Linked DNA regions of Homo sapiens: region 2 is linked to region 1. The links come from fine-mapping of genetic effects on gene expression. A gene starts in region 1. The other region holds a variant in brackets. All regions are shown on one strand. Distances are between the middles of the regions.

Region 1 (15,835 bases):
AGGAGAGTGTCTATTTTGTCCTCTCTTACCTTATAGAAACTTCCCAGTTCTAGTGTTAATTATAGTTGTCAAAAAAAAACTTCTTCAAAACATGTATAATTTAAATTAATTACTTATGTAATTCTTTATTTAATGTCCTCTTCCCATACTGCTCTGTGCTCCAAGAAGTCAGGGACCCTGTCTAGTTCTACATTCTATTCTGAATGCCCAACACAGTATTTAGGAGTTGGTAGCAATACTTAGGAGTTGGTAGGTACTCAACAAATATTTGTCACTAATGAGTCAGTGAAAGACAAGAATCACATTCTATGGTTAATGCTTTTGTAAAAATTAAAAAGCATTCATTAAAGGAGAATTTTGAAAGGAAATATCGCTAGCATAATAAGCATAATTAATTTAGGACCAATCCTTTAGGACTTCTCTAGAACCTACTCCAGGGAATAAAGAAGCTATTCTACATTGCTTTAGTTTGTGTTTGGAATTTACATATGGAGGTTGAAACATTTTTTTTCACTCAAGAGAAAAATATAGAGTATAAAAGAGACCTATTGGTCACTATTCAAAATCATTAATTTGTTTATTCAACATTTGCTAATTAAGCCACATGTGCCTAAGCATGCTATGCTATTTGTTGGCAGTAGGAGTGATAAAAATGAAACAAGCATGAAATATGTGTTCTTAAGTAACAACAGAGGACATAAGGAAATGTACCCAGATATGTTTCATAACGAAGAGTACAACCTAATATTCAGGTCCTGCCATATGGATTATGCAGAGCAAAACTTTAAGTCAAACCTTTTGATCCTATTCCAGATACACAGCTCTTTGAAATGTTCACATATATGTCATGCTGTTTGACCACATAATATATACCTGAATCTAGGCAGAAAAGATAGAGGAAAATAGGGTGGAGGAATAATATTGAGAGATGACTAGAATATTGAAAGAAGGCATACAAGTAATCAAAAGGGAAGGGGGTAGAAGAAAAGAGATGCAGGGGTCTTTTTTATTTATTTATTTATTTTTTGAGACGGAGTCTTGCTCTGTAGCCCAGGCTGGAGGGCAGTGGCGTGATCTCAGCTCACTGCAACCTCCACCTCCTGGGTTCACACCATTCTCCTGCCTCAGCCTCCCGAGTACCTGGGACTACAGGTGCCCACCACTACGCCCGGCTAATTTTATATATATATATTTTTTAGCAGAGATGGGGTTTCACCATGTTAGCCGGATGGTCTCGATCTCCTGACCTCGTGATCCACCTGCCTCAGCCTCCCAAAGTGCTGGGATTACAGGCGTGAGCCACTGTGCCCAGCCAATGCAGGGGTCTTAAAAATGAGAGGCCTTGAATCCCACTCTGGTGTCCTAACCCTTGGAATAACCTGTTTTTTCCCATCTTCAGATGAGCCATCCCTCACATGAGAGATCTGTATTTCCATATCCCTGGAACTTACCACTGAAGACTTCCAGGTACACAGGTTCACTCTCATTAACTTGTTGGTGCTGACATTTGTATTCTCCACTGTCTTCAAATTTGGCATTCACAATATTCAAACTTGAATTTGTCTCTTCTGAAAGGCTGCCATTGTGGAACCATTTGGTGGAACTGACTTCAAAGAAATTGTTCCCATTACATGTAAGAGTCACATTCTCTCCTTTAAATATTCTATTCCATGGAGGGTTCAAGGAGACCTTAGGTTTCTGAGGGACTTCAAGAAGATAAAAATATGAAAAGACATGTAGAGAGAAAAAAAGTCATTGAAAACTGTCTAGGCTTAAAAGTACAAACGAAGCAATATTCTGACAATCAGTGGTCAACCTGTCCTTATTCTGTTGGTGATAAGACCCTGTTTTGATTTCTAGGGGAAGGAGAAATTAGTATTGGTGCCCCAGGGAACGCCCAACACAGGGAGAAAGACAGGACACATATGCAGGAGATTTAAAAACAAAGAAACCAATTCACTATGTGATTTGAGCTGACTCACTCTACTTCTGTTAATTTCAATTCAGTATCTGTAAATGAGGACTGCAATCTCTTTTGAGGTAGAAACACTGTCTGCCATGTTCAACCATTGTTACATTAAATATTTATTATGTGAATGAATGAGTGAATTATGGATGGATAAATTTACTGGACTGGATGAAATATAAGGTTTCTCCAAGCTCTGAATATTTATGACTATTTAATTGTAAGTATATACAGAGTGAAAAACATATGTCAGTTCCAGAAAGTAGTGAGAGGCACTAAGAAAGTCAGTCTTGAATGGCTTCCTGGAACAAGGGGATGTAGTGCAAATTTGAACAGAGACCAAAGAAGTAGATACATGGTGATAACAAAAGGGTGATATAGTCAGAAGAGAACTGGACTTAGATCCAAGGAACTTACGTTGAAATCCAGTTCCTTAGCCATGTAACCACCAGAAAATCACTGAGTTTCAGCATCCTCAATTATAAAATGGCAATAATAATAATAATGTAATTATTGAGCGAGATCATGCCAAAGTGTCTAGGAGAGAGAATGAGACATGTATATGTGCAACAGACATGGTTATTGACTAAAACAGAGGAGAGAATGACTTGAGAGAATGCAATGAATCAGGGAAAAAAAGAAAGACAAGGCAAGGTGGAGAGGGAAAGTAGTCTGGCCAAGGAACAGATTCATGCTCATTAGAAAGCAGAAGTGATGGGACGAAGAAAATAGTGAGAGGAAAGCAATGCCCAGACATGTTGAAACACCAAGGGAACAAGAACAGAGGACTCACCTGCTAACACGCCATCTGGAGCTGCAAAAGTCCAGAGAGGATACATTAGTGTCCAGCAGTCTTCTTTATCTCCAGAGGACTAGAATCTGGGTGTGGGGATAAGATCTACATCCATGGAATTTTAAGGACCAACCGTCTTTTCAGGAATCAGAATCAGGGGAAGAAAGAGCTTCTTTCTCTCCTCTACCCTCATTTCCTTGGTAGGAAATTTGCACTCTGGAAGATGCCAGAGCAAATGCAAGGAACCAAGCTTTCAGTCTGGCTTCCTCCTTAGGTGTTGCTCAGCCCACTTGCCTCTGCTTTCTAGCTTGGCTCCACTACAGAGTCCCTGGGAAATGCCCAATAGTTTGCACATGTCCTAGAAAAAGTCACCACCCACAGTAAAGGTTCCTACCCCAGCTGCTCCCCAAATTCATTTGGGCCTCCCTGGGAGGGGTAATTGAATCTCTACTTACCGAAGAACAGTAAGGCTACACACAGTAGAGTAGGGGATTCCATGGCAGGAGCCATCTTCTTCATGGACTCCTGGTGCTTACTGTGCTGGAGAGATCTAAGGCTTCAAATATAGGCTTAAAACCAAAAAGCAGAAGGAAATGTTTTCTGTATCATATCTGGTTAACCCATCAGCTGTGCCTGGTTTTGCTTCTTTCTTTAGAGATAATATTCAGGATGGTGCCCAACTGGGCAATTTAATATTTACCCACTTACTCCACTCCCTATCCCACCTCCACATATACACCTGGAATCTGGTGAGAGAGAGGCATAGGTCTAGCACAATCACAAGCCTTTCTTAATCTGTCAATCTGTGTACAACTATTTAGTTTACAACTTAGAAAAGTGGGATGCAAGGGAGAGCAGAATAAAACAGCAGCAACTAATTACTGAATACCAAACATATGCCAGGTGTTATCCTAAATAAATCTGATATTTCATTTATTTTTCACAATAATCCTATAAAGTACATACTATCACTATCTACATTTTATAAACAGGAAAACTGAATCTTAGTGAGGTTAAGTAACTTGTTTTGGGGTGCCAACTATTAAATAACTAATTTGGGGTTCAAACACATAAAATCTAACCCCTAAGTCAAACTCTTAGTCATATGATGTACTGTTTATACATATTCAGGAGCATGGCTAGCAACTGCCAAATTCTTTTGGGATTCACCAGAGCTACCAACGCTTTTCTTGTTTAATTTCCTGCTGATCAGTTAGTGCATAAATCCACAAATTTTCATCTGATTCACTGATGATCCGCTGTCTGACCAGCGAAATTGGAAACATTTTCAGAGACTCCTCTTTCTCTACTGTGCCCTAATCTGGCTCAGAACACAGGAAGGCAGAAGTTAAACCATTACTTATGGGGATCTAGGCCATATAATTTATTTTATTTTACTTCCTAGCTTTTGTTTACTTTTAATATTATAATTTCCCAACATGATCTCCCTTTCTCCTTTAAATACACAGCAGGGGCTTTCTCCAGGATTCCTTTACTAATTCTTCTGTTTTTTTGCTCTAGGTCAAGGCTCAACCTTCTTCCAGGATCTGATATTAATGATAATACTGGAAATGAAAACTCTATTAATGTCTATAGTGGCTTGTCATTTGCAAAGATTGCTTTTAAATGAGTGTCCTATTTTATCTTTACCAAAACTCTGAAGAAGACAGGGACAGTATATTTAAACCCACTTCACATCTGAAGCACTTGAGGAACCATTCTATCATACCTTGCTCTTCCCCACAGACTGCTGAATTAAGTCTATTGAATGAAACCAGTCATTCCACATGAAGATCTAACCAAAACCTTTAGTTTTCTATGGAATTAGAAAATATAGGGCTAAAAAGGTTAATAAATAGGAATTTAAGTTTCAGATAAGAAAGATTAGGTACTGAGCCCAGGACATGCTATGTTTTAATGACAGACCTTAAAGGTAACAGCAAGTTATTTTGAAAAGTACAAGTTGTTTGTGTTTTAAGCTCTGAATTCAAATGTTCCTAATTTTTATGTGATTGAAGGTTACCTGTATAATAGGGACAATAATGGTATCCAGGTCATGGTTATATTATGAGATTTAATAAGATAAAAAAGAAGTAAAATGCATTGCACAGCATCTGACATGTGAAATATGGTCAATAAATACATTTTTTGTCTTCTTTATTATCATTATTTATTAAAGACTTATAGGAGAAATATGAATTTTGACTGGATTAAAGTTATTGTCAACCTACATAGTATGTTTAATTTGATAAACAACATCTTATGCTAGTTTAATATATCTACGCAATCTCAATCCTCTCCACAGTCACAAAGAAGAGAGCATAATCAGGAAAGAACAGAATGCAGAAAGTTGTTGGATAGGATTGGAGAAGAGAAGGAGGAGGAAATAGGGAAGATGTAGTTTTTAAGGTGCTGTCAGAGGGCAATATTTGAAGCCCTAAGCCCTGGAAGAGACGGGGAAAGATTCTACTTTACCAGTTTGTTGAGACTTTGCCAGGGGAAATTTGGGTTCCTTTTTCCTAGGACAGTGAACCTACAATCAAATTGTCCCTCAGAGAGAGTCATTTTACCATGACTCAAATAGTCTATTTAAAGGCTTCCTCTGAAGTCGTTATCTAAATAGCTCCTACTTAGATGGGAGATGGAGCAGGGCTCATCGAGAGGTACTATTCCTAGTTCGAAGAGTATAAGCTTTGGAGTTAGGGAGGCCACTTTCATTTCTAAAGCTTTCTGAAACTTTGGATTTATCATTCTAAAGCTTTTGCTTAAGTGCCCGGTATTGAAATAAAGGAAGTGCTTTGGTAGCAGTAACAGCAAAAATGTAGCAGTCCAATAAAAGCAGCTCATTAAAGCCTAAAAAGCAACCAAACTACCCATCTTCCCAGCCCACCCCCACCCCAAAAAAGCAAACCATTAACAGCATCGGAAAGAAAAAGCCATACCCTAATTTCCATAGCATATAACTACAGGTACCCAAAAGAACAGAACAAGAACACAGAAGGAACACATTAACACTAACATTAAACAAGAGCTCTATTCCTCCCTGGAAGAACGGGCTGATACACAGTTGAATGCCACAGGTTTTTTATCTTATATATAAAAAAAAAAGTCCTTCAAGTTTCATATCCATTATCTGGGTGGAGTGGGCTGCTACTAATTTCTCATACCCAGCCTGTCCACATCAGGAACACACGTTCACTGAAATCAATAGGGCGTGTCTAAATTTCAGTTCTTGCTTCTGATTCTGGGTACAGGAATGCTCAATACACAAAGAGTATCACTATGCCCAAACTTGGACCTGTTATTTGATGTTGGGAGCCTTAATCTATATTTCATTTTGTAGCAGTGGAAAAATGAAACAAATGGCTGTACATGAGCTACAGGGCCTGAGGACTGTGAGGTGCCCCTGCAACTGGATCCAGCGTGAGAGGCTTTGGGCAGGAACTTTTGTGTTTCGGGACGTGCCTGGCAGAGGGAGGATCAAGGCTCAGCCTATACAGTGTGTTAGCCTTTATGTCCTTCTCCAAAACTGGGAAGCAGAAAAACCAAATCAATCTGCTGGCTTCCTTCTCACTCTCAAAGTTCTCTAAAACAAGGTGAGGTCCATATAAAATTGAATATGAAACGATGAAAGTGCAAAATGCCTGTCTGCTCGTGATATTTATGTACCTAACAAATGTTGATCTCTCCCTGAGGATCAAATACAAGGCTAACTATGCAACATGTCCTATCTATTTTCCTCCTACTACCAACTCTATGTAGTTAAGAATAAGGAAATCAAAGCATGAGAGGTTAAGTAACTTGTCCCAGGGCACACAGTTGCTATGTAAAGGAATTAGAATTTGAACCTGGCAATATGTCTTAAGAGCACATGCTCATGACCAGATAGATAGATGATTGATTGACAGATAGATAGATAAAGATGTCTTTATTCATTGAGTCTACACTTTGTGATTAAGTGCACATGGATTCATAGTCCTCATGCAGAAATTCCTTGGATTCAAGGGTTCCATAACCCACAAATAGGAAATCACTGATCTAAACCAACTTTCTGTTCTATAAGTTCCCTTTCTTAATTCAGGCCATGACATCTCAACTCACAGCCACACAATGTTGGTACTGTTGGTATGTTAGCTATGTATATTTCATGGACATGCCTAAAAAGAAGAAAGGAGAGAGGGATTCTTTCCTTTTTCCTCTATATTAGGGCCAGGAGGATATCAGCTGCATTTACTTTCTTTTGCTACCCTGAACAGGAGTTTCTGCTCAAGAAAGAGCATCAATAGCAGATGCTGACTGCCTGTTAGATTTTCACAAGAAAGTCAGTGACTTTAATATTTTTTACTTCTTGTCTTGACCTGAATGGGTCTAAAAGTAATAAATCCAAAGGAAATAAATGGAAACTCCCAGGACTACTAAAGAAGAGAGTGAAAAGGGAGGTTCTAGTTTCCTTTAAACAACCAGCTCTCATGTGAACTCATTACCATGGGGAAGGCACCAAGCCATTTATAAGAGATCTGCCTCCATGACCCAAACACTTCCAACTAGGCCCCACCTCCAACATTGGGGACCACATTTCAACATGAGATTTGGAGGGGAGAAAACATCCAAGGCGTATCACTGAGCATAATCTACACTCTTTTATAGTGCATAGGTGTGGGCATCTAGATATCAAGCTGCCTGTCTTCAAGATATGTAATCAGCCACTCACACTTTGCCGATGAAGCATCTTTGTGGTGTCTTGTAGTTAAGGGTACAATCTGAACCATAAGGTGGACTCAAACAAATTGATCATGACCTCTACCTTATAAATAGTATATTTCAGCCAAGAAGCCCAAAGGGCTTCAAACTTACCTTCATGTCTTCCAACAGATACAGATGTTAAGTGAGCTGACATTTTCTTCATAATGGGGAGAACAATATTATAAGCCCACTGAGGAAGATCCTTAAGGAAAGTTGTAGTATAAAAAAGTTTTCCTTCTTTAAAAAAAATTTTTTTTGAGACTGGGTTTTACTATGCTGCCCAAGCTAGTCTCGGACTGCCAGGCTCAAGTGATCCCTCCCACCTCATCCTCCCAAGAAGCTGGGATTATGGGGATGTGCCACCATACCCAGCTAAAAAAAATACCAGAATATCACACTAAATTTTTAAAAATTAAAAGAATAAAAATAAAAGTTTAGCCATAGATAATTTAAAGAAATTAAGTGCAAGATTAATTAAGAGTTCAGGCTAGGAACAAGCTCTAAAGTTTGAGTCTCGGCTGTGACCACTCAAACTCTTTTTGCCTCAGCCTTCTCACCAGTAAAATGGAGATAGTAATAGTACCTACCTTAAGGGTGGTTATCAGCATAAAATGAGTTAATGTGGTGAGGTGGTTAGAACAGAACATATACTAGTTTTCATGAATACTATAATTATTTTGCAAGAAGCCTTTGGTTAGACTTGAGAGCAGCAGAGAGAGAGCCTCCTTTCCCATCCTCCTGGTCTGTCCTGAGGATGAAGAACCTGGAAGGCCACTGGTGGGTCCAGAAGGCAAAACCTTGTTCTCACAGGATGCAGCCAGGATCACACAGCAGTAATCATGTCAATGAGACAGACATCATCACACACATAACCACACCCACACCTCCAACACACGCATGTCTGCAGAAGTGGCGTTAGGAAGTTTGAAGATCATTTTCAGGTGTGGTACGAGACAGAGAAATCCCCATTGTGCAGAGTCAGCCCTCAAGCCGAATGTAGTGTAGGCCAGGTTTATTTTATGCTTCCTTACAGAATTACACAGTTTCAAAACGGAAAGAGAAATCTCTTAAAGGAATCCTTTTAGGCCGTTAACAGACAAGGATGAGAGATCTTAGCCCAGACCAGGACATTTGCATTTTAATAGGCAACTTTTGAAGACCTAATTTTTCAGGACTCTGGCTAAACAGTTCTGTGACCCGTGTGTTTCTAGTGCGTGAAAGAGGGTATGAGTGAGGATGGGAACAGTGGGAGGGGCAGGACGCATTCTGAAACTTTCTCATCATACTCTGTGTTACCACCTACAAAAGGCCTTTAGGAAATGTAAGTTTATGCATGAGAATGTATGTATGTGTATTGAGGGTTGCTTGTTTCAATGATGAGTATACAGGAGACATTTGTAGCATTAGCAGGCAAACAAATGCCCTGCAATACTGAAGGCAGCCTTGCATACTAAATAATTGGCCTGATTCTGCACATCTTTTCAATGTGCAGCCAGATATTTTATAATTATCTGAGCCTTAAACACGACTGTGAAAAACACAAAAGCATCTTTTGCATTTCTCATACATACTGTATTTTACAGAAAAGAAACTACCATGTATATTGAGGAAAGATTATCCTTGGCTTTTACTGGAAAAACATCCTTGAATTTTTCACTGTTTCAGAAAATCAGATCACCTGTAGCTACACTGTTCATGATATTTGTGTCACCAATACCTTATTCTCATATCAGTCTGTTTTTGTAGCACTCATATTCATGAAGGACATATTTTCCTATTATAATGTTATTTCCCTTTATTTCTTCTTTATATTAAAACTGGGAATTTTACTGATTAAAAAATATATGTGTGTGTAAGTAGCAGAGGTAGATCCAGTTTGAGGCCCTGAAACTTAAACAGTTTAAGGGGGCTTCCTTAAAAAATCCAGTAGAAATTTTTGAATACAATATTAGATATTAAAATTACTATTTAGGACAAGAAAGTTAATCACAAAAGGTTAAAAATATACCAGCTGACAAATGACATAAACATTATAAAATTCATCAGAAAGTAAACAGATATTCCACTATCCTCTTCCTTTTCAAAATATTGTTATTACATGTTATTTGATCTCCTCTTCCTCAGACAGAGATATTGTAATATCATTTTTATAGACAAACTAGAAATATAATTTATTCTTTTCTCTAGCATCATTGAGCACCACTTATTTTCTATTATTGATTGTTGGGAGTGCATAGAGTATGCAGTTTCACAGCAATATTCTCACTATTTGTAGTGTGGTTACAGGTTTATGCCTTACAAACACAGGAATAAATGCATGCTATCAAATGTGATCTGATAGGATTGAAAACCACTGCTAAATTCTGAAGAAGAAAAAAGGGCCAGAGAAACATGGAATAGGGGCCCTGATCCGCAGTTTCCAGTGATATTCATCACAGCTTTTTCCTTTGTCTCTTCCAAAACGGGAAACACTTGCAGATTATCATAGAGGTTCAAGAAAACAAATGAATATTGAGTGTCTGTGATTAGACTATTAGACCGAATATTAGAAATAGATTCAGTGACATAAAATTTGGGACATTTTGGTGGCCATTCCCGTAGAATAGTGTTTATTATAATTAGGAATTTGTAAGTTTTTTAATTAGAAAATTTGTACGTTTTTCATTGATAATAAATAAATGAATATAAATATGGATCATTCAGATGACCATTTCATAACCAAAAATTGCATCTTTATTTCAACATCTGCATTTCCATTTTTTTGTTTGCAATTTACAACTGCATCTAGTGACCGACAAATTAAGTCATGCTGCACCTATGAATGAGGGTTTTATGTTGTTCAGAGACAGGTGGACAAAAAAAGGAACTGACACAAGGCCCACCCTAGAATAGGCTGCCAAACACAGAACAACCCTCTTTATCATAGGTAATAGCACAGTCACGTTGCAGAAAGATATATGAAGAAAATCTTCTCTGCATGACCCAAGGGGCAAGAGTTAATTAGAAGTCTATAGCAGAGAATGTAAAATAAATAATTTTTTGTATTCTCAATTCCTAAATTGAATTTATACTAATCAACCATATATTTCAATAATCTCATGATGCCAATTTATCTTTAAGAGAAAAAAGATAACTTCAGAATTATCAAGGGCTATCTCATTAAAGTTAGCATTTGATCATAGTTTGCTGGTAGAATTTTGGCTAATTATATTTTCTAATTTTTCAGAATGAGCAAACTATGTCTTGAAGTTTATTAATAGTGTTTTTTATAATATACTTTTCCAAACAGGCAATCTCTGAGCTTGAATTATTATGGACAAATAAAGAAATGGCTTAAATATGGATACAGACCTGTTACTTGATCTTTCTGTCACTAAAACTAACACAAAAATTTAGTTTCAGCATAGGAACATTCTTCATCATATATTTTCATTTCTTTGTTCAACAAGTATTTATATTCCAAGCACTCTGTCATTTGCTGGTGATACAAGAGAGATAATAAGCAGACAAGATCTTTTCCCTTGGGGAGAAGACTTTCTATTGGAGAAAACAGAAAATAAATAAGTAAACAGAACAGTGACAGCTTGTGACTAACGTTTGTAAAAAGTAAATAATGTTGCTCCATAGACGTACAAGGACAATCTGTTTTAAATAGGGTTAAGAAAGGCCATTTGATGAAAAATGACTTTTAAGTAGAGACTTAAAGTACGAGATAGGATGAAACAAGACAAAGGCTGGAACAAGAATTTTCAAGCAGTGGGAAGTTGAAAGTCCCCATAAAAAGAAAGACTTTGGAGAATTGTAGAAATTAAGAGAAGGTTCCAAGTCTTTGCTATTGTGAATAGTGCCGCAATAAACATACGTGTGCATGTGTCTTTATAGCAGCATGATTTATAGTCCTTTGCGTATATACCCAGTAATGGGATGGCTGGGTCAAATGGTATTTCTAGTTCTAGATCCCTGAGGAATGGCCACACTGACTTCCACAAGGGTTGAACTAGTTTACCATCCTACCAACAGTGTAAAAGTGTTCCTATTTCTCCACATCCTCTCCAGCACCTGTTGTTTCCTGACTTTTTAATGGTTGCCATTCTAACTGGTGTGAGATGGTATCTCATTGTGGTTTTGATTTGCATTTCTCTGATGGCCAGTGATGGTGAGCATTTTTTCATGTGTTTTTTGGCTGCATAAATGTCTTCTTTTGAGAAGTGTCTGTTCATGTCCTTCGCCCACTTTTTGATGGGGTTGTTTGTTTTTTTTCTTGTAAATTTGTTTGAGTTCATTGTAGATTCTGGATATTAGCCCTTTGTCAGATGAGTAGGTTGCAAATGTCCAACAGTGATAGACTGGATTAAGAAAATGTGGCACATATACACCATGGAATACTATGCAGCCATAAAAAGTGATGAGTTCATGTCCTTTGTAGGGACATGGATGAAATTGGAAATCATCATTCTCAGTAAACTATCACAAGAACAAAAAACCAAACACCGCATATTCTCACTCATAGATGGGAATTGAACAATGAGAACACATGGACACAGGAAGGGGAACATCACACTCTGGGGACTGTTGTGGGGTGGGGGGAGGGGGGAGGGATAGCTTTAGGAGATATACCTAATGCTAAATGACGAGTTAATGGGTGCGGCACACCAGCATGTCACATGTATACATATGTAACTAACCTGCACATTGGGCATATGTACCCTAAAACTTAAAGTATAATAATAATAAAATTTAAAAAAAAGAAATTAAGAGAAGGACATTAGGGCTGAAGCATAGCGAGTAGAAGGCCAATGGCATAAAACGAGATTGGAGATACACATAGGGGCCAGATCATGAGGGCCTGGAAGAACATGAAAAAGTGTTGGGATTTTATTTGAAAGCTAAGAAAGAGCCACCGGACTGTGTGAAGCAAAAGAATGCACATACACACACACACACACACACACACACACACACAGTGTGTATGTATATATATTCCCCTGCTTAATACAGTTTGATGGCTCTTCATGTATGTCTTAGTCTATTTTCTGTGGTTATAACTGAATACCTGAGACTGAAATTTATAAAGAAAATAAATTTATTTCTTAAAGTTCTGGAGACTGTGAAGTTCAAGGTCAAGGGGTCTATCTGGTGAGGACATTCTTTCTTAATGGGGACTCTCTGCAGATTCCCGAGGTGGCACCGAGATTCACATGGCAAGGGGGGCTTGAGCCTGTAAGCTCTAGTCTCTCTTCCACTTCTTTTAGAGCCACCAGTCTCACTCCCATGATAACCCATTATTCAATTAATCTATTAATTCATAATTAGGTTAATCCATTCATGAGGGCAGAATCTGTATGAACCAATTACCTCTTACAGGTCCTGCTTCTCAATACTGCCATACTGGAAATTAAGTTTCATCACGAAGTTTGGAGGGGATAAACACTCAAACCATAGACATGTATATGTATAGTATATGTGTATACACCCACATTCTCTCAACGTCTACCGATCTATCTATATATAGATAGGTATGTCGTCATGTAATCTGTAGGTTTTTTGAGCAGATATTGGGAAATGCTTAAGAGTCAAAATATGATGATAGATAGTCTAGAGAAGTGGTAGTATAGATAAAGAAAAGTTGATGGGTTTGAGGTATATATATTAATGGGACTTACTGACAGATTGGAGGGCACAGAAAGTATAAAATATGATTCTTAAATTTCTGGCTGTAATAACTGGGTAGACAGTAATTACATGGTGAAGACTGGGGAAGTACTATATTTAAGGGAAGTACTAGAATTGGGGGAGAAATCAACCAAGTGTTCCGGTTGGGAAGTGTTTTAGTTTGAAGCATCTTTATTGTATCTAAGAGTCTGTGCTAAATAGGCAGTTACAAAAAAAATGTTGAGAGACCAGTAGAAATGTCTATATTAGAGATATAAAGTAGAGAAAGTAGAGAATCACTGGCATACTTTAAAGCCACTGAGTAAGATGAGGTCAGCTGAAGAGAGAGAAAAAGAAATTAAGCAACAGAGAAAGTCTCAGAGCAGAACTCTAGGAAATTTCAATATCTTGAAGATGAGTATCAGAAGACCCAGAACAGAGGCTAGAGAAAACAGCTGATAAGGTAAGAAAACTCACAGGGAATTATGTCACTAAAACCAAGAAGAGAGTACAATTCTAGAGGAAATCGTTAATTACATTGAATCTTGTTGAGAGGTGAAGTAAAATAGAGAATACAATTATCCTCTGAATCTAGCAATATGGAAGTTTTTGGGACTTTAGCAATGGCAGTGGAGTAATATGTGTAAAAAGCAAACTGAAGTGGGCTAAAAAAGTGAATAGGAATTGAGGAAGCATAGGCAACATGTGCGGACAATATTCTGAGAAGTTTTGCTGTGGGATGGTGGTATAGGAAGATGTGGGGTTAAGGGAGGATTCTTGTTTTATATAAGATGCTGGATTGTATTTGTTAGCTAACAGGAATAATTCAGTAAGCAGAGAGGGAATAAGGGAAGTATAAGTTAAATAATTGAAGAAGTTAAGCCCTTGCATAATCAAGAAGAGAGAAGTGGCTTTCACTCATTCAATTTAAATCTTTCTTGAACATAACACAGGTGTTTCTGCCATAACATGTAACATACATTTATTTTTTTAAATTGTTTTGCATTCTGCAAAAATAACTAAAACTAACAAGTCTTTGAGAGGAAAAAAAGACTGTTACAGATCATGAAAACCTACCATCAGAGCAGTAACATAAACATTAGTATTTCTACCAAATGAACTATGCAGTTAAAAAGATATGTTAAATTTGTAATAAATAAAATTAACAGTAAATCTAGGACTTGATCACTTTCAAAGGTTGGTGGAAGAAGATGACAAAGAGAAAATACACAAAAGCAGGGGAAAACCAGAGAACAAACATGCTCAAGATACACTTGTGGTAAAACTAAGCCAAGAGAAAACCTTGAAGTGAATAGTTACTGTGCAGAATATTCTATTCCTTGCCATGTTCTACTGTGCTAGTAAGATTTGTGTTAGCTGTTCCTTGGTAGTTCAAAATATTAACTTGCTAGAAAAAAATCTTGTTTCAACCAACTTCAATGTTATATTGACATTATTCCTTGGCTTGCCTATAGCATATAGACTAATTTGCATTACAGAAAAATGCATTATATCAGAGAAACTGCAATGTATTTCTTGATTTGTTAAGCAGTTGCCATGTGCATAGCAATATGTGGAATACTGCGTAGAATACAAAAATGCAGAAGGGAGTTCATCCAAACCACAATGACTTTATTAAAAACTTGATTTCCATAAGCAGGAAGAATAATGGAGAAACTAGGATGTGTTCTAATAAAAATATAAGCACAGGTAACTGTTAATATTTTTTGAACACTGACTGTATTCAGGCATTGTGCTTTATCCTATTTAATACTCACAGGAATCCTATGAAACAGGTACTATCAGCATCCTTGTTTTTAATGAGGTAGGGAGGTTTAGATTATACAACTAGTGAATGGCAAAGCCAGGATTTGAAGCTTAGAGGTCTGAATGGTAGGGATCTTAAACATGAGGAAGAAAGGCATTCAACAAGGTGCTCCAGCACTTTGGCCACAACATTTGGGATAACTTAATTATTCCCTCCAATAAGTTGAGAGTTTGTGGTCATCTTTTGACTTAAAATTTATGAGGCAAGATACTGATGGAGAATCTGACACTGCTAGGGTACTGATGGAGAATCTGACACTGCTAGGGTTTGCAGGAAAAGGCAGGTTAGAAGTAATGGACCTGAGAGAGAGGGTGCTAGAGTTAGCCTCCATTGTGTGGCACCTACTTAAGTACCCCTGAGTTAGGTGGGCATAAAGGAAAGTGACAAGAACTTAAGCCATATTGTCCCTCTCCCTCAAAGGGGACACTCTCTGGGTGAGGGGAACTCTAATAACAAGAGGCTCTGGAGTGGGCGGCCTGCAATGAGAGCAGAGGAAAGTAGAATTGATTGAACCATAAGTTAATAGGTCATTCTTTTTGCTGTGCAGATGCATGGGACATAGGTTCTTCTGGAGAACCTACAAAGGTATTCCCATGAGAGCACCTATATTTGAATCACTGCAAATGAGAAAGAACAATGAATAATGCTAGAGAAATGGTGACAACTAGCAAAAAGGTTACACTACCACAATCTGACCTCCACTTATGAGGTAGTGTTCACACAGGAATAGCAGTTAAAACAAAACAAGGAGCCGACAGCTAATACAGCATGGAGAGTTGCTTTCTTCTTCCTACTCTCAAGGAAGGGGCTGATATCTGGAAGAGGGAGGGATGTGAGTAGTGTGGCCATCACC
Region 2 (15,835 bases), 39 kb after region 1:
TTCATTTATATATAAACTTGAATCCTATCAGCTGGAACAAAGACTTTGTCCTTCAAAGAAGAGTATGTGAAGCCAGGTGGTAGGTGTCTCTCCCTTTCTAGGACTTTTGCAGTCCCCAAGAGTCCTCCCAGCTCTCCATGTTTACTTGGGAGGAATGGCACAGTCAAGTAGTTGCTGAGTTCAGTTAGGTATATGCTCCCAACCTAGAAAAACAGTGGTAGAGATAGACTAAAGGGTTCTTTATGGGGAGAGAGAGTTAGCGTGGGAAGAGTGAGGGGTGGTAGAAAATGGGAGAAATGATTTTTCAAATACCAGAAATTCCTAGGTCCAGAGAAAGGAGAGCTGGTTTACCTGCACAAAGGGAACACCATCACCCCTACTTTATGAGAATGAGAAAAGGTCCGAGGCCTATTTGCCAGAAGGAGAGATGATGCCGCAGAGCTAACAGCCTTGGCTAGGCACTTTCTAACTGTGTGAACGTCAAGAAGTTATATACTTCCATGAGCCTCAGTTTCTTCATTTGTAAAATGGGATTTTTTATTAAAAAAAAGAAAGCTACCTCATAAAGTTTTATAAATGTTGAATGAGATTAATTATGACATTAGATATTTAAAAGTTATAAAATATTAGTAGTTTTAAAAGCTTTAATATTTCTGTACTATCTGCTCAGAAATGAGCTACTCTTTTCCCACATGGTATGTTTCCCAAAACAGCTACCATTTCTGGCTTTCCTTCAAATGGGAACTCTGACCAGTGCACAAACTCTTCCAGGGAAACAATTAGTAACATAAAAAATAATTAGAGTGTTCTGAAAATACCACTCATGATGATCTGCTTTCAGGAGATAAGGAAAGAAGAGCTGATTTCATCTTCATGTGGAAAATATTCATCAGAATCTTGCTATAAATGGTCTTAGGAAAACGGGATCTCCATATGCAGAAGAATGAAACTGGGCCCTTATCTTACATCATATACAAAAATCAACACAAAATGGACTAAAGCCCTAAATGTAAGATGAGACACCATAAAACTCCTAAAAGACACATGAAAAAATGCTCATCATCACTGGCCATCAGAGAAATGCAAATCAAAACCACAATGAGATACCATCTCACACCAGTTAGAATGGCAATCATTAAAAAGTCAGGAAACAACAGGTGCTGGAGAGGATGTGGAGAAATAGGAACACTTTTACACTGTTGGTGGGACTGTAAACTAGTTCAACCATTGTGGAAGTCAGTGTGGCGATTCCTCAGGGATCTAGAACTAGAAATACCATTTGACCCAGCCATCCCATTACTGGGTATATACCCAAAGGATTATAAATCATGCTGCTATAAAGACACATGCACACATATGTTTATTGCGGACTATTCACAATAGCAAAGACTTGGAACCAATCCAAATGTGCAACAATGATAGACTGGATTAAGAAAATGTGGCACATATACACCATGGAATACTATGCAGCCATAAAAAGGATGAGTTCATGTCCTTTGTAGGGACATGGATGAAGCTGGAAACCATCATTCTCAGCAAACTATCGCAAGGACAAAAAACCAAACACCAAATGTTCTCACTCATAGGTGGGAATTGAACAATGAGAACACATGGACACAGGAAGGGGAACATCACACACCGGGGCCTGTTGTGGGGTAGGGGGAGGGGGGAGGGATAGCATTAGGAGATATACCTAATGTTAAATGACAAGTTACTGGGTGCAGCACACCAACATGGCACATGTATACATATGTAACTAACCTGCACGTTGTGCACATGTACTCTAAAAGTTAAAGTATTAAAAAAAAAAAAAAGACTCCTAGAAGAAAACATAGGGGGAAAGGTCCTTGATACTGACTTTGGCAATGATATTTTTGAATATCACACTAAAAGCACAGGCAACAAAAGCAAAAATAAACAGGTGAGACTACAACAAATTAAAAAAGCTTCTGCACAGCAAAGGAAACAATCAAAAAAATCAAAAAGCAGCCTATGGATTGGGGGAAAATATTTGTGAACCATATATCTGATAAGGGCTAATATTCAAAACATATAAGGAACTCACACTACTCACTAGCCAAAAAAAAAATCCAATTTTAAAATGGGCAAAGAATCTGAATAGATACTTCTCCAAAGAAGACATAAAAATGGCCTGCAAGTATATGAAGAGGTGCTTGATATTATTAATCATTGAGGAAATGGGAATCAAAACCACAATGAGATGTTACTTCATATCTGTTATGATGGCTACTACCAAAAAATGAAAGATATGGAGGTGAGGATTTGGAGAAAGGAAGACCCTTGTACACTATTTGTGGAACTATAATTTGGACATACATTATGCAAAAAAGTATGGCGGTTCCTCAAAAAAATAAAAATTGAAATACCATATAATGCAGCAGTCCCTTTCTGGGTATTAGGGGAAATGAAATCAATACCTCAAAGAGATACCTGCACTTTCATGTTTATTACAACATAATTCACAATAACCAAGATACGAAAATAGTCGATGGATAAATAAAGATATTGTGATACACACACACACATACACACACAAAATAGAATATTACTCAGCCTTAAAAAAAGATACTGCCATTTGTGACAACATGAATCAAGCTAGAGGACATTATGCTAAGTGAAATTAGCCAGATGCAGAAAGAAAAATACTGTGCAATCTCACATATGGAATATTTTTAAGTCAAATACAGAGAAACAGAGAATAGAGCAGTGGTTAGTTACTAGGGAAAAGGAGGGGGAGAAAATGAGGAGATGTAAGTCAAAGAGTACAAACGTTCAGTTATGTAAGATAAATAAGTCTAGGGATTTAATGTATAGCAGGAGGATTATAGTTAATAATATTAAATTTTATATTTAAAATTTGCTAAGAGAGTAGATTTTAGGTGCTGTTACACACACATACACACACATGCATGCATGCGCGCGTGCATGCGGGAAAGAGGTAACTATGGAAGGTGATGGGTATCTTTAGTTGTGTACATGTAGTAATCATTTCACCATGTATATGTATATCAAAATATCTTTTTGTATACCCTAAATCTGTACAATAAAAAATGAGGGAGGTGAGGGGAGGAAAAATTTTTCAAAGCAGAAAGGATAATAGCATGCCTATTCTATATTACTTGCATTTTATTTCCAGCCCTGCCACTGACTCACTATGTGACCTTGAGTCAGTCATTTCATCTCCCTGTGTTAATTTTCTTGTTTGTAAAGCAGGATAATGAATATAACTTTCTGTTCTCTCAAAAACAACTCTTGCTATGATTATCTCATTTTAGGGAAAGGAGAAAAAACTCACTAAATATGCTTCATTTGAAAGGGAACATGTTGGTTTAGCAAATTATAGATGAATGTGTACTTCCAGTCACAATTGGCTGGAAGAAAGTTGTATTCCTTCTATTCCTACTAAATAAAATTAAGTGGATGAGCGCAAAATGATTACACACCCACCTCTGCCTTAAAAGGGGGTAAGTCCATGAGATTGAGCCTCAGCATCTGAGATGACAGCTTCAAGTACATTGAACAAACAGGGATTTGACCCCTTTCTTATGAACAGATAACCAGGGATTGGGGAGGATATGACACAAAAAAGTAATATTTACACCTATTAATTCAAGTTTTCTATTTCTTACCCGAAGAGGAATGATAGAGACTCAGGAAAACCAAATCATAGACCAACAGAAATAATCAATGCATTTATCATTAGCCACATCCAACTCCACAGGAAGAATTTTTTGAGTATAAGGGTAAAATGCCCAGGGACTAGGTATGAAAGGAAAAAAAGAAGATAGGGTTTCACAACCTTTGCTCATTGCACTCAATAAACTAACCTTTCTTATGTCCCTGGAATAGAGTTGACAGAACCAAAAAAGTAAGTTAGGAAAAAGAATTCACCATATAAGATCTTTCATTGCAATATCATATGTAAATAACCCATATTTGCAAGCCCTATATGTAATAAGCCCTATGCGGAGATAGTCAGATGTTAACATATGATTAATATGAATTTTATAGTATTTCTCCTGGTTCTAGAGAAATCTTACATATCAACCTGACCTATGGTTAAAACCCCTTGTTCTACAGCACTTGGACCAAGACAATAAGGTCTTTCTATATCCATGTAAAACTGAAGCCTACAGTCTGTCTATTGGCTATGGAGAGGGCATTGTTAAGCCATCCTAAGACTCTTGTTTCAATCCATGTGCACCCGCTGGAGGAACTGTAGAACTCCTAGGTAGAAGAGAAGCCCCAGGAGAGAAAGGGATACTCAATTGAACAGAAAACAAAGATCACCCTGAAGTGGAAGCAGCATTCATTTGGGGGCAAGTTTGGTAGAGATAGTCCTTTAATGGAGAGATTTGGGATTAGCCCTGTAGAATTATGTGCTCTTGTCAAAGGAGATATGCACCACCTATTGTGATGACATCATCCTAAACTATTAGGCTTTCTTTTATTCTTATGACCTTTTCTTTTGACATAATTTTGGATTTACAGAAAAGTGGCAGGAAAAATAAAAAAAACCTTCCCAGATACTTAATTTTTATTGTGATAAAATATACATAATATAAAATGTATCATTTTAACAATTTCTAAGTGTACATCAGTGATGTTAAGTACCTTCATAGTGTTGTATAACCATCACTATTTCCATAACATTTTCATAATCTCAAACAGAAAATGTGTACCTACTAAATAATAACTCTCCATTTCTTCTTGACTGCCAGTCCTGGGCAAGCACTAACCTGCTTTCTGTCTCTATGGATTTGCCTACTCTGAACATTTCATTTAAATGAATCATAAAATATTTGTCTTTTTGTGTCTGGCTTACTTCACATAGCATAATGTTTTTAGAGTTCATCCATGTTGCAGCATGTACCAGAATTTCATTTCTTTTTAAGGTAGAATAATATTCCATTGTGTATGTAGCAGATTTTATTTATTCGTTCATCTTTTGATGGACATTTGGGTTGTTTTTACCTTTTGGCTTCTGTGAGTATGCTATGAACATTGGTGTACAAGTGTCTGTTTGATTCTCTGTTCTCAATTCTGTTGGGTATATACCCAGGAGTAGCATTGCTGAATTATATGGTAATTCTATTTTTAACTGTTTGAAGAACCACCAGACTGTTTTTCACAGTTGCTGTATCATTTTACATTCCCATCAGTTACACACAAGGGTTCTAATTTCTCCACTTCCTCCCCAACACTTACTATTTTCTATTGTTTCTGTTGCTATTAATATAATAATGATCCTAATGCCAAAGAAGTGGTATCTTATTGTGGTTTTGATTTGTATTTGCCTGATGGCTGGTGATGCTGCACATCATGTCATGTGCTTGTATTGGCTATTTGTATATTTTCATTAAAGAAATACATATTTGAGTTATTTGCTCACATATTAACTGCTGGAATTTTTTTTGCTTTTTAAAAAAGTTGTAGGAGTTCTTTACATATTCTGGATATTAATCTCTTATCAGATATTGAGATGTATGATATGCAAATATTTCCCCCCTTTCTGTAGGTTGTCTTTCCACTCTCTTGTTAGTGTCCTTTGATGCACAAAAGTATTTAATCTTGATGAATTCCAATTTATCTGTTTTCTTTTCTGTTGCCTGTACTTTTAGCGCATGTCTATGAAATCATTGCCTAATCCAATGTTATGAAGATTTACTTCATCTTTTTCTAAGAATTGTATAGTTTTAGCTCTTACACTTGGGTCTTCCATCTATTCTAATTCTGTATATGATGTCGAACTTCATTACTTTTCATGTATCTCCGGTATTTCCTGTCCCATTTATTGAAAGCACTGTCTTTTCTCCATTGTTTTGGGACCTTTGTTGAAAATCAGTTAATTAAGAAGATTGTTCACTAAACAAGGCCTTTAAAAGCAAGGCCAGCACGGGGAGGGGGGTTGTACTAATGTTAAGTTCTATTCCAACTGAGCCAATTTTTAATTTACTTTTTAAAAATTAATCAGTGTCAAAGTTGTATACAGAATAGCTTTCTGTAAGTACAATAGGGCACCTGGGTGCCCTGGGTTAGATCAGTTGAGAAGATGACTTATTTTTATTGTAGTTAAATGTACGCATCTGCTGAGCCTTACATGAACTTATAGACTTAAGGTTCTGGTTAGGCTCAGAGGTGGATGTAATGAGAAGCTAATAAAACTTCTCTCTCATTGGCACAGACCGCTTATACAAAATCATCTTTTCTCATTCTAACTAAATATTCATGTATTCAAAATCTGAATCCACCCTTTGTAGGTACCTGTACAGAGAACTGAAGTCAAATTCTGGTCTACCTATTTTACTTGATGAGAAAAAAATCCTGGTTTTAGGATTTTATCTTAGGATCTTGTCTCAGAATTTTATGATGTGATATATTTTTAAAAAAATCACAAAAACAATGCCATTTAAATAAATTTCTTTCTTCAACCACTTGTCCCTCCTCTTTGGAGCAAATTGTCTTTTCCATAACAAAATGCCTATTTAGGCCACAGTGTTGTAATGTTGAGCTCCCCCTTCCTCTCCCTCCTGCACACCCCAGGTCCTTGTTTATAGAGTAATAAATATGCAAAGATATTTTAAGTTTCTCTGCATAAAAATTAACCTGGATTTTGGTGGTCCTCTGGAAGTAGAGAAAATAAGAGAGGAAGAGCTGCAGGAAGAGGTTGAGTAACATGACATAGATGACAACCTATGGAGAAATGTGGTACAATGAGAGATTGTAATGAGTGGTGATGGTTAAAGAATTTTAAGAATTATCGGATATTAATATAGAAACAGTTTGCAGTGTGGTGCTGTAATGTAACCTTTCTTTATCCTTTCCTCCTACAAATTCTGCTATTAAAAACAAGTATCTGGCCGGGCGCAGTGGCTCATGCCTGTAATCCCAGCACTTTGGGAGGCCGAGGCGGGCGGATCACGAGGTCAGAAGATCGAGACCATCCTGGCTAACACGGTGAAACCCTGTCTCTACTAAAAATACAAAAAATTAGCCGGGCATGGTGGTGCCTGTAGTCCCAGCTACTCGGGAGGCTGAGGCAGGAGAATGGCGTGAACCCGGGAGGTGGAGCTTGCAGTGAGCTAAGATCGTGCCACTGCACTCCAGCCTGGGAGACAGAGACTCCATCTCAAAAACAAAACAAAACAAAACAACAACAAAAAAAAAACAAGTATCTGCTGGACTGCTGCTTTGTGGCAAATGAGGAAAATAGGCTGAGTTCCTCTTCTGTGTTGGAGTGGGATTAAAAAAAGACAATAGCCGCAGGAAGTAAGGTGAAGGGAGGTGAAGTGAAATCAAGAAATCAGAACTAGAAGGAAGCACACAAAAGACACATGCACACGTATGTTTATTGTGGCACTATTCACAATAGCAAAGACTTGGAACCAACCCAAATGTCCAACAATGATAGACTGGATTAAGAAAATGTGGCACATATACACCATGGAATACTATGCAGCCATGAAAAATGATGAGTTCATGTCCTTTGTAGGCACATGGATGAAATTGGAAATCATCATTCTCAGTAAACTATCGTAAGGACAAAAAACCAAACACC[A/G]CATGTTCTCACTCATAGATGGGAATTGAACAATGAGAACACATGGACACAGGAAGGGGAACATCACACTCTGGGGACTGTTGTGGGGTGGGGGGAGGGGGGAGGGATAGCATTAGGTGATATACCTAATGCTAAATGATGAGTTAATGGGTGCAGCACACCAGCATGGCACATGTATACGTATGTAACTAAACTGCACATTGTGCACATGTATCCTAAAACTTAAAGTATAATAATAATTTAAAAAATAAAAATAAAAATAAATAAAACTTCTAGTGAATTTTTGAAAATTATAAGAGGATTTTTTACTTCCCATCAGACATAGATTAGTAGATTTGAACCAATTTTAAGGAATTATATGTGTATGTCAAAGGACAGGTTGATTTCAACTGACATCTGTGATGACTATGTATGTGAAAGAATAAGCATACATTTAACAACCAGCATATAGTTTAGTAAATGTTGAGATTACCTTCCCTGGGGTACTAGAGGGGATATCAATGAGCATTGGGGAGAGGAAATGGTCTTCCTCTTTGGAAAGATGTAGAGTAGCCACAGCATGGAAAAGCAGAATTATCAGTAGAAGGAGTACCATGCTAAAAGCTGGGAGACTTTGGTTCAAGTGACAGCTCTTCCATTAATACAAAGTGACTCTGAGAAGTTTATGTTTTAAATTCTTTACACGCAAAATGTTCAAACCACTATCTCTCAAATGCTGGCCAGCCTTTTAGGACTGAGCCCTTCCATTTATCTTTCTTACAGGACATCCATTTTTGTTTTATTTTGCTTTCAGTAGGTGGTCTATTATTTCTGCCATCAGTAAGTGTTTTTGATCATAGCCATGGCTTACTGACTATATATAATACACTCTTTTTTTGGCATTCCGAAGTATTGCCTTTTTTTCTTCCCCCCAAAAATTCTTTGATTACCTTGAATATGATTTTTCCCCTATCCAGACAGAATGCTAATTCTTCAGGGTCTTCCTGATTCTTCATCTCAATTAAGTCCTAAGCAGAGAAACCTGTTGCCACCAACTTCCATTGACAGAGAAGCATACCAGACTTTGAAGATAACTATGTCTCTCAAATATCCAAAACTCCTACTAAAAGTTTTTGTTTCAAATGAGTTTATTAACTTCAGGGATGGGAGGGGAAAGTATTTAGTAAGGATCAGAGATCATCCAAAATGAGGTTGGTGTAGAGTAGCAACCGAGTCATGAAAGGCTTCTTATCAGTAAGATCAAAATTCATAGAAATTACTGATTAAACACACATTTTCTCATTCAGCTTTGCAGTTAAGATGAATTGGCTTCCATTGTATCAGGTAACTGTTTTATTTTACTGGGAGTTCCTTTACATTTTTTATATTGACAAGAATTAGTTGTTAAGTGCTAGTATAAAATATAGATAGTATGCTTATCAAATTGTTATCTTGGGTTTATTACCTTTAGAAAAGGGTTCTGTTTATTACAGGCATTCCTTATTTTATTGTGATTCACTTTGCAGATATTGTGCTTTTTACAAATTGAAGGTTTGTGGCAATTCATAAAGCAAGTTTTTGGCACCATTTTCCCAACAGTGTGTGCTCACTTCATGTCTCTGTTTCATGTTTTGGTAATTCTCATAGTATTTCAGATGTTTTCATTATTGTTACATCTGTTATGGTGGTCTGTGATCAATGATTTTTGATGTTACTATTGTAATTGTTTTGGGGCACCATGAACTGTATCCAGGTAAGACAGCAAACTTAATCAATGAATGTTGTGTGTATTTCCCCCATCTCTCTCCTTCTCCCCCAGCCTACTTATTTCCTGAGACACAACAATATTGAAATTAGCCAATTAACCCCACAATGGCCTCTAAGAGTTCAAGTTAAAGCAAGAATAGCACTTCTTTAACTTTAACTTAAAAGCTGGAAATAATTAAGCTTAGTGAGGAAAGCATGTCAACAGCTAAGACAGGTCAAAAGCTAGGTCTCTTGTGACAAACAGTTAGCAATGTTGTGAATGCAAAGAAAAAGTTCTTGAAGGAAATTGAAAGTGCTACTCCAGTGCACACACAAATGAAAATAAAGCAAAGCAGCTTTATTGCTGATATGAAGAAACTTTTAGTGGTCAACATAGAACATCAAACCAGCCATAGCATTCCCTTAAGCCAAAACCTAATCCCGGACAAGACCCTAACTTTAATTCTGTGAAGGCCAAGAGAGATGAGAAAGCTACAGTAGAAAGTCTGAAGCCAGCGGAGCTCTCTGGTTTTATTTTTGTTTGTTTTTCAATGTGTGTCTATAACACAAAAGTGCAAGACAAAGCAGCAAGTACTGATGTAGAAGCTGCAGCAAGTGATCCAGAAAATACCTAATTGAATAATTGAAGGTGGCTACACTAACCAACAGATGTTCAATGTAGACAAACAACCTTACATGGGAAGAAAATTTAATACAGGACTTTCATAGCTAGAGATGAGATGTTAATGCTCGACTTCAATGCTTTCAAGAACAGGCAAGCTCTCTTGTTAGAAGCTAATGCAACTGGTGATTTTAAGCTGAAGCCAATGCTCATTTACCATTCTGAAAATTCTAGAGCCTTTTGGGAATTATGCCAAATCTACTCTGCCAGTGCTCTATAAATGGAACAAAGCCTGACCAATAGTGCATCTGTTTACACCATGGTTCACTAAATATTTTAAGCCCACTGTTGAGACCTACTGCTCAGGAAAAAAAAATAAGATGCCTTTCAAAATATTACTGCTCCTTGACAATGAATCTGTTTACCCAAGAGCTCTGATGGAGTCATTTCAAAGAGATTAATGTTGTTTTCATGCCTGCTAACACAATATTCATTCTGCAGCCAATGAATCAAGGAATACTTTTTTACTTTCAAGTCCTATTATTTAAGAAAAACATTTTGTAAGGTTATAGCTGCCATAGCTACTGATTCCTCTGATAGATCTGGGCAAAGTAAATCGAAAATTTTCTGGAAAGGACTCACCATTCTAAGTGCCATTAAAAACATTTGTGATTAGGAGGAGGATCTCAAAATACCAGCATTAATAGCATTTTGAAAGAAGTTTATTGCAATCATCATAGATGACTTTGAAAGGTTCAAGACTTCAGTGGAGGAAGTCACTGAAGATGTGGTAGACAAAGCAAGACAGCAAGAATTACAAGTGAAGCCTAAAAATGTGACTGAATTGCTGCAGTGTCATGACTAAAGTTTAATGAAAGAAGAGTTGCTTTTTATGCATGATCAAAGAAAGTAGTTTCTTGAGATGAAAACTACTCCTGGTGAAGATGCTGTGAACATTGTTGAAATGACAACACATGATTTAGAATAGTACATAAACTTGGGTTATAAAGCAGTGGCAGGATTTGAGAGGATGGACTCCGATTTAGAAAGAAATTCTACTGTGGGTAAAATGCTATCAAACAGCATCATATGCTACAGAGAAATCTTTCATGAAAGGTAGTCAATCAATGAGACAAACTTTATTGTTGTCTTATTTTAAGAAATTGCCAGAGCCAGCTCAGCCTTCAGGGACCACCACTCTGATCAGTCAGCAGCCATCAACACTGAAGCAAGGCACTCCACTAACAAAAAGATAACAATCCACTGAAGGCTTAGATTATTGCTAGCATTTTTAGTAATAATGCATATTTTAATTAAGCTATACACATTTCCTAGACATAATGCACACCTAATAGAATACAGTATAATGTAAACATAACTTTTATATGCACTGAGAAACCAAAACAAAATGTGGCTTACTTAATTTTTTGAAGGGTTTTTGGTGTCTCTATTTCCTTCAGTTCTGCTCTGATTTTAGAGCATGTGTTATGTGGTGATGAGAAGAATATATATTTCTTGTTTTGGGTGGAGAGTTCTGTAAAGGTCAATCAGATTCATCTGGTCCACTAATGAGTTTAGGTCTTGAATATCTTTGTTAATTTTCTGCCTCAGTGATCTGTCTAATACTGTCAGTGGAGTGTTGAGGTCTTCCACTATTATTAGGAGATATCTATGTCTCCTTGTAGGTCTCTAAAAACTTGCTTTATGAATCTGGGTGCTCCTGTGTTGGGTGCACATATATTTAGGATAGGTCCTCCTGTTGAGTTGAACCATTTTGTAATGCCCTTCTTTGTCGTCTTTTATGTTTTTTGGTTTAAAATTTGTTTTGTCTGAAATTATTATTGCAATCTCTGCTTTTTTTTCCTGTTTTCCATTTTGCTTGGTAAGTTTTCCTCCATCCCTTTATTTTGAGCCTATAAGTATCATTATGTGTGAGATGGATCTCCTGAAGACAGCATACCATTGGCATTAGGTCTTGCTTTTTTATTCAGCTTGTCACTCTATGCCTTTTTCTTTTCTTTCTTTCTTTTGACAGAGTCTCACTCTGTCACCCAGGCTGCAGTGCAGTGGCATGATCTCAGCTTACTGCAACCTCTGCCTCCTGGGTTCAAGTGATTCTCATGCCTCAATCTCCCTAGTAGCTGGGATTTCAGGCATGCACCTCCACACTCAGCTAATTTTTTTCTACTTTTAGTAGAGATGGGGTTTCACCATGTTGGCAAGGCTGGTCTTGAATTTCTGGCCTCAAGTGATCCACCTTCCTCAACCTCCCAAATGCTGGAATTACAGGCATGAGCTACCACACCCAGCCTCACTCTGCCTTTTAAGTGGAACATTTAGCCTGTTTACATTCAAGGTTAGTATTAATATGTGTGGATTTGATCCTGTCATTGTGCTGTTAGCTGATTATTATTTTGGCTTGTTTGTGTGGTTGCTTTATGTTAACACCAGACTGTGTGTTTAAGTGTATTTTGTATTAGCTGGTAGTGGTTTTTTCTTTCTATATTTTGTGCTCCTTTCAAGATCTCTTGTAAAGCAGATCTGGTGAGAATGAATTCCCTCAATTTTGCTTACCTGAAAAACATCTTATTTCTCCTTCACTTAGGAAGCTTAATATGAAATTCTTGGTTAAAGATATTTTTTTCTATAAGAATATTGAATATAAAGTTCCCAATCTCTTCTGGCTTGTTTCAGGTGAGAGGTCTGCTGTTAGCCTGATGGGGCTCCCTTTGTAGGTGACCTGCCCTTTCTCTCTAGCTGCCTTTAACATTCTTTTATTTCTGATCATTACGTGTCTTGGGGATGATCTTCTTGTGTAGAATCTTGGAGAAGTCCTCTGTATTTCCTGAATTTGACTGTTGGCCTCTCTAGCAAGGTTGGGGAAGTCTTCATGAATGATATCCTGAAATATGTTTTCCAAGTTGTTCGCTTTCTCCCCGTCCCTTTCAGGGATGCCAATGATTCATAGTATGGTCCTCTTTACATACTCCCATACTTCTCAGAGCTTTTGTTCATTATTTTTTATTCTTTTTTTTTTAACTTTTATTTTAAGTTCAGTGGTACATATGCAGGATGTGCAGGTTTGTTACACAGTTAAATGTATGTCATGGGGCTTTGTTGGACAGATTATTTCATCATCCAGGTATTAAGCCTAGTACCCATTATTTATTTTTCCTGATTTTCCTCATCCTTTCCCTTCTCCCACACTCTGCCTTCCAGTAGGCCCCAGTGTGCCTTGTTCCCCTCTATGTGTTCATGTGTCCTCATCATTTAGCTATCACTTATAAGTAAGAACATGCAGTATTTGATTCTTAACCAAATTTTGGTTTCTTAACAGAAAGCCAACTGCTACATGTTCTTACTTATAAGAACTGTACTTTTAAGAACTGTCTGTCTATTTCAGAGAACTAGTCTTCAAGTAGTGATGTTCTTTCCTCTACTTGGTTTATTCTGCTGTTAATACGTGTGTTTGCATTGTGAAATCATTGTATTGTGTTATGGAGCTCTGTCAGACCTGTTATGTTCTTTTTAACACCAGCTATTCATCCTTCAGCTCCTGTATTGCTTTATTGTGATTCTTATTTTCCTTAGACTGGGTTTTGCCATCTCCTGAATCTCAATGCTCTTCATTGCTATCTGTAAAGTGTCATTTGCTTGTCTCCTGGGGGCTCCACCCCAGAGAGATGCAGGTCAGCAACAGCTCAGTGCAATCAGCCCAAGGTGGAGGGTTATAGAGGGAAATGTGTGCCAGGGGTTCCCTGACTTACAACAACCAGTCAGGGGTGTGGGGAACCTATGGGAGATGGACTGGCCTTCTCTCCTTGGGTTGACCACAGCTTGTTGGAGATATGGATAAGGCACTTAGGGTCTTTGCTCCTTTGTCTAAGGATGGCAAGGGCAGTTCCATTGCAGACGTAGTAGCAGAGGCTTTCAGTTGCTCCTGGAGGTTCTGTCCAGAGCATTGCCAAGTTGTTATTGGCTCGATAGCTCTGGCGGGGGGTGGCTGGAGGCCTGGGCGTGGTGGACCTGCCTGGTGAGGACATATGGGAATGGGCATCCACATAACAGTCTGGCCACTTTTCTGCAGGGGTGCCATGGTATGCTTGGGGCCCATTCCAGTCCCTAGTCAACTTGGATTTTCCACTACCTGGAAGTATCACCAGTGAAGGCTACAAAACAGCAAAGATGGCAGCCTGTCCCTCCCTCTGGGAGCTTTGTCCCAGGGAGGTTGCAGGCCCAAAGGCACCTGTAGGAGGTGGCTGGAGACCCCAGTTGGGAGGTCCTGCCCACTGAGGAGGAACTGGATTGGGGGCCCACTTAAAAATACTGTCTGGCCATGTTTTGGTAGAGCAGCTGTGCAGTGCTGGGGATCTGCTTCAACCCCTGGTCACCTTAAAAACTCCAAAGTCTGAAGTCTGGAATGGCTAAGTTGTCCAAACAGCAAAGATGGTGGCCTACCCGTCCCTCTGGGAGCTCTGTCCCAGGGAGATTACAAATCTCTGTCTGCCAGACAACACCAGTGGGGGTGGCTGGAGGCCCTGGTTGGGAGGTCCTGCCCAGTGAGGAGGAATGGGATTAGGGACCCACTTAAAAAAGCAGTCTGGCCATGTTTCGGTAGAGCAGCTGCGCTATGCTGGAGGATCCCTTCTGCCCCGGTCAGCTCAGACCTCCAAAGCCTGAAGGCTGAATTGGCTAAGTTGCCCAAACAGCAAAGATGGCAGCCTGTCCCTCCCTCTGGGAGCGCCACCCCAGGGGGAATAAAATATCTGTTGAGGCAGAGTGCGGTGGCTCACGTCTGTAATCCCAGCACTGTGGGAGTCCGAGGCAGGCAGATCACTTGAAGTCGGGAGTTCGAGACCAGTCTGGCAAGCATGGTGAAACCCCATCTCCGCTAAAAATACAAAAAAAAATTGGCCAGGCATGGTGGTACATACCTGTAGTCCCAGCTACCTGGGAGGCTGAGGCAGGTAAATGGCTTGAACCCGGGAGGGGGAGGTTGCAGTGAGCCGAGATCACGCCATTGCTCTCCAGCCTGGGCGATAGAGCAAGACTCCGTCTCAAAAATAAATAAATTAATAAATTAAATAAAAAAATAAAATCTCTGTTGAGGGGCGAACATGAGTGGGAGTGGCTGGAGACCCCAGTTGGGAGATCCTGTCCAGTGAAGAGGCATGGGATTGGAGACGCACTTAAAGCAGCAGTCTGGCCACGTTTTGTTAGAGCAGCTGTGTTGTGCTGTGCTTGGGGATCCCTTCTGCCCCCAGTCGGCTTGGACTCTTCAAAGTCTGAAGGATAGAATGGCTAAGGCCCTGGAACAGCGAAGATGGCAGCCTCCCCTACAACTCAGCTCCTTCTTAGAGAGGTGCAATGCGGCTACCAGTGGCTGGCTGGAATTCCAAGCCAGTGGGTCTTATCTTGGGAGGTGCTGTGGAAGTGGGGCCTGCAGGCTGTCACTGCTCAGCCTCTGGATTCAGCCTCTTTCCTAGGGGTATGTATGGGGGTCTAATCTTTCACTTTGCTGGAGCTGCAGCTACTTTTGCCGGAAAGCCGGACTATTTAAGGCACCAGGGTCTCCACACATGCCTCAGCGGCTGCTCTGCCTAAACTCCATATAGCTCTGTCTGTCAGATTGAAGGCCCTGCTGGGATGGGCTCACAAGGAAGGTTGCAAAGATCCGTGAGAGAAGCATGGTTTCCTGGGGTCGCACATTCACCACTTCCCTGAGTGGGGAAGTTTCCCTGGCTCTGTGCTGCTCCCTGGTGGGTCGTTGTCCTGTCTTGCTTTTCTTCATTCTTCGTGGGTTAAGTTGTTTCCTTGATTACTCCCAGTGCAAGTACCTGTGTGTTTCAGTTGAAGGCGTTGTGTTTACTCTCCCCTTCTGTTCCTCTCTGGGCAAGCCGTGCACACTA

What was found. PIP is the estimated chance that this variant, and not a neighbour inherited with it, causes the effect. A credible set is the group of variants that fine-mapping cannot tell apart.
Region 2: its variant is the best candidate, but not a certain one, in a credible set for the expression of FCER1A in whole blood (INTERVAL, PIP 0.64).

The regions. Positions count from the first base shown.
Region 1 is chr1:159,289,799-159,305,633 of GRCh38, reverse strand. It overlaps FCER1A (Fc epsilon receptor Ia), which reads right to left and starts at 3,298. Exons shown (of 5, transcript NM_001387280.1): 1 at 3,215-3,298; 2 at 2,760-2,780; 3 at 1,452-1,706. The coding sequence starts at 3,269.
Region 2 is chr1:159,250,879-159,266,713 of GRCh38, reverse strand. No RefSeq gene overlaps it. Among named protein-coding and RNA genes, the nearest start is that of FCER1A, 44 kb to the left of the region's middle. The variant A/G (reference allele first, on the strand shown) is at 7,580.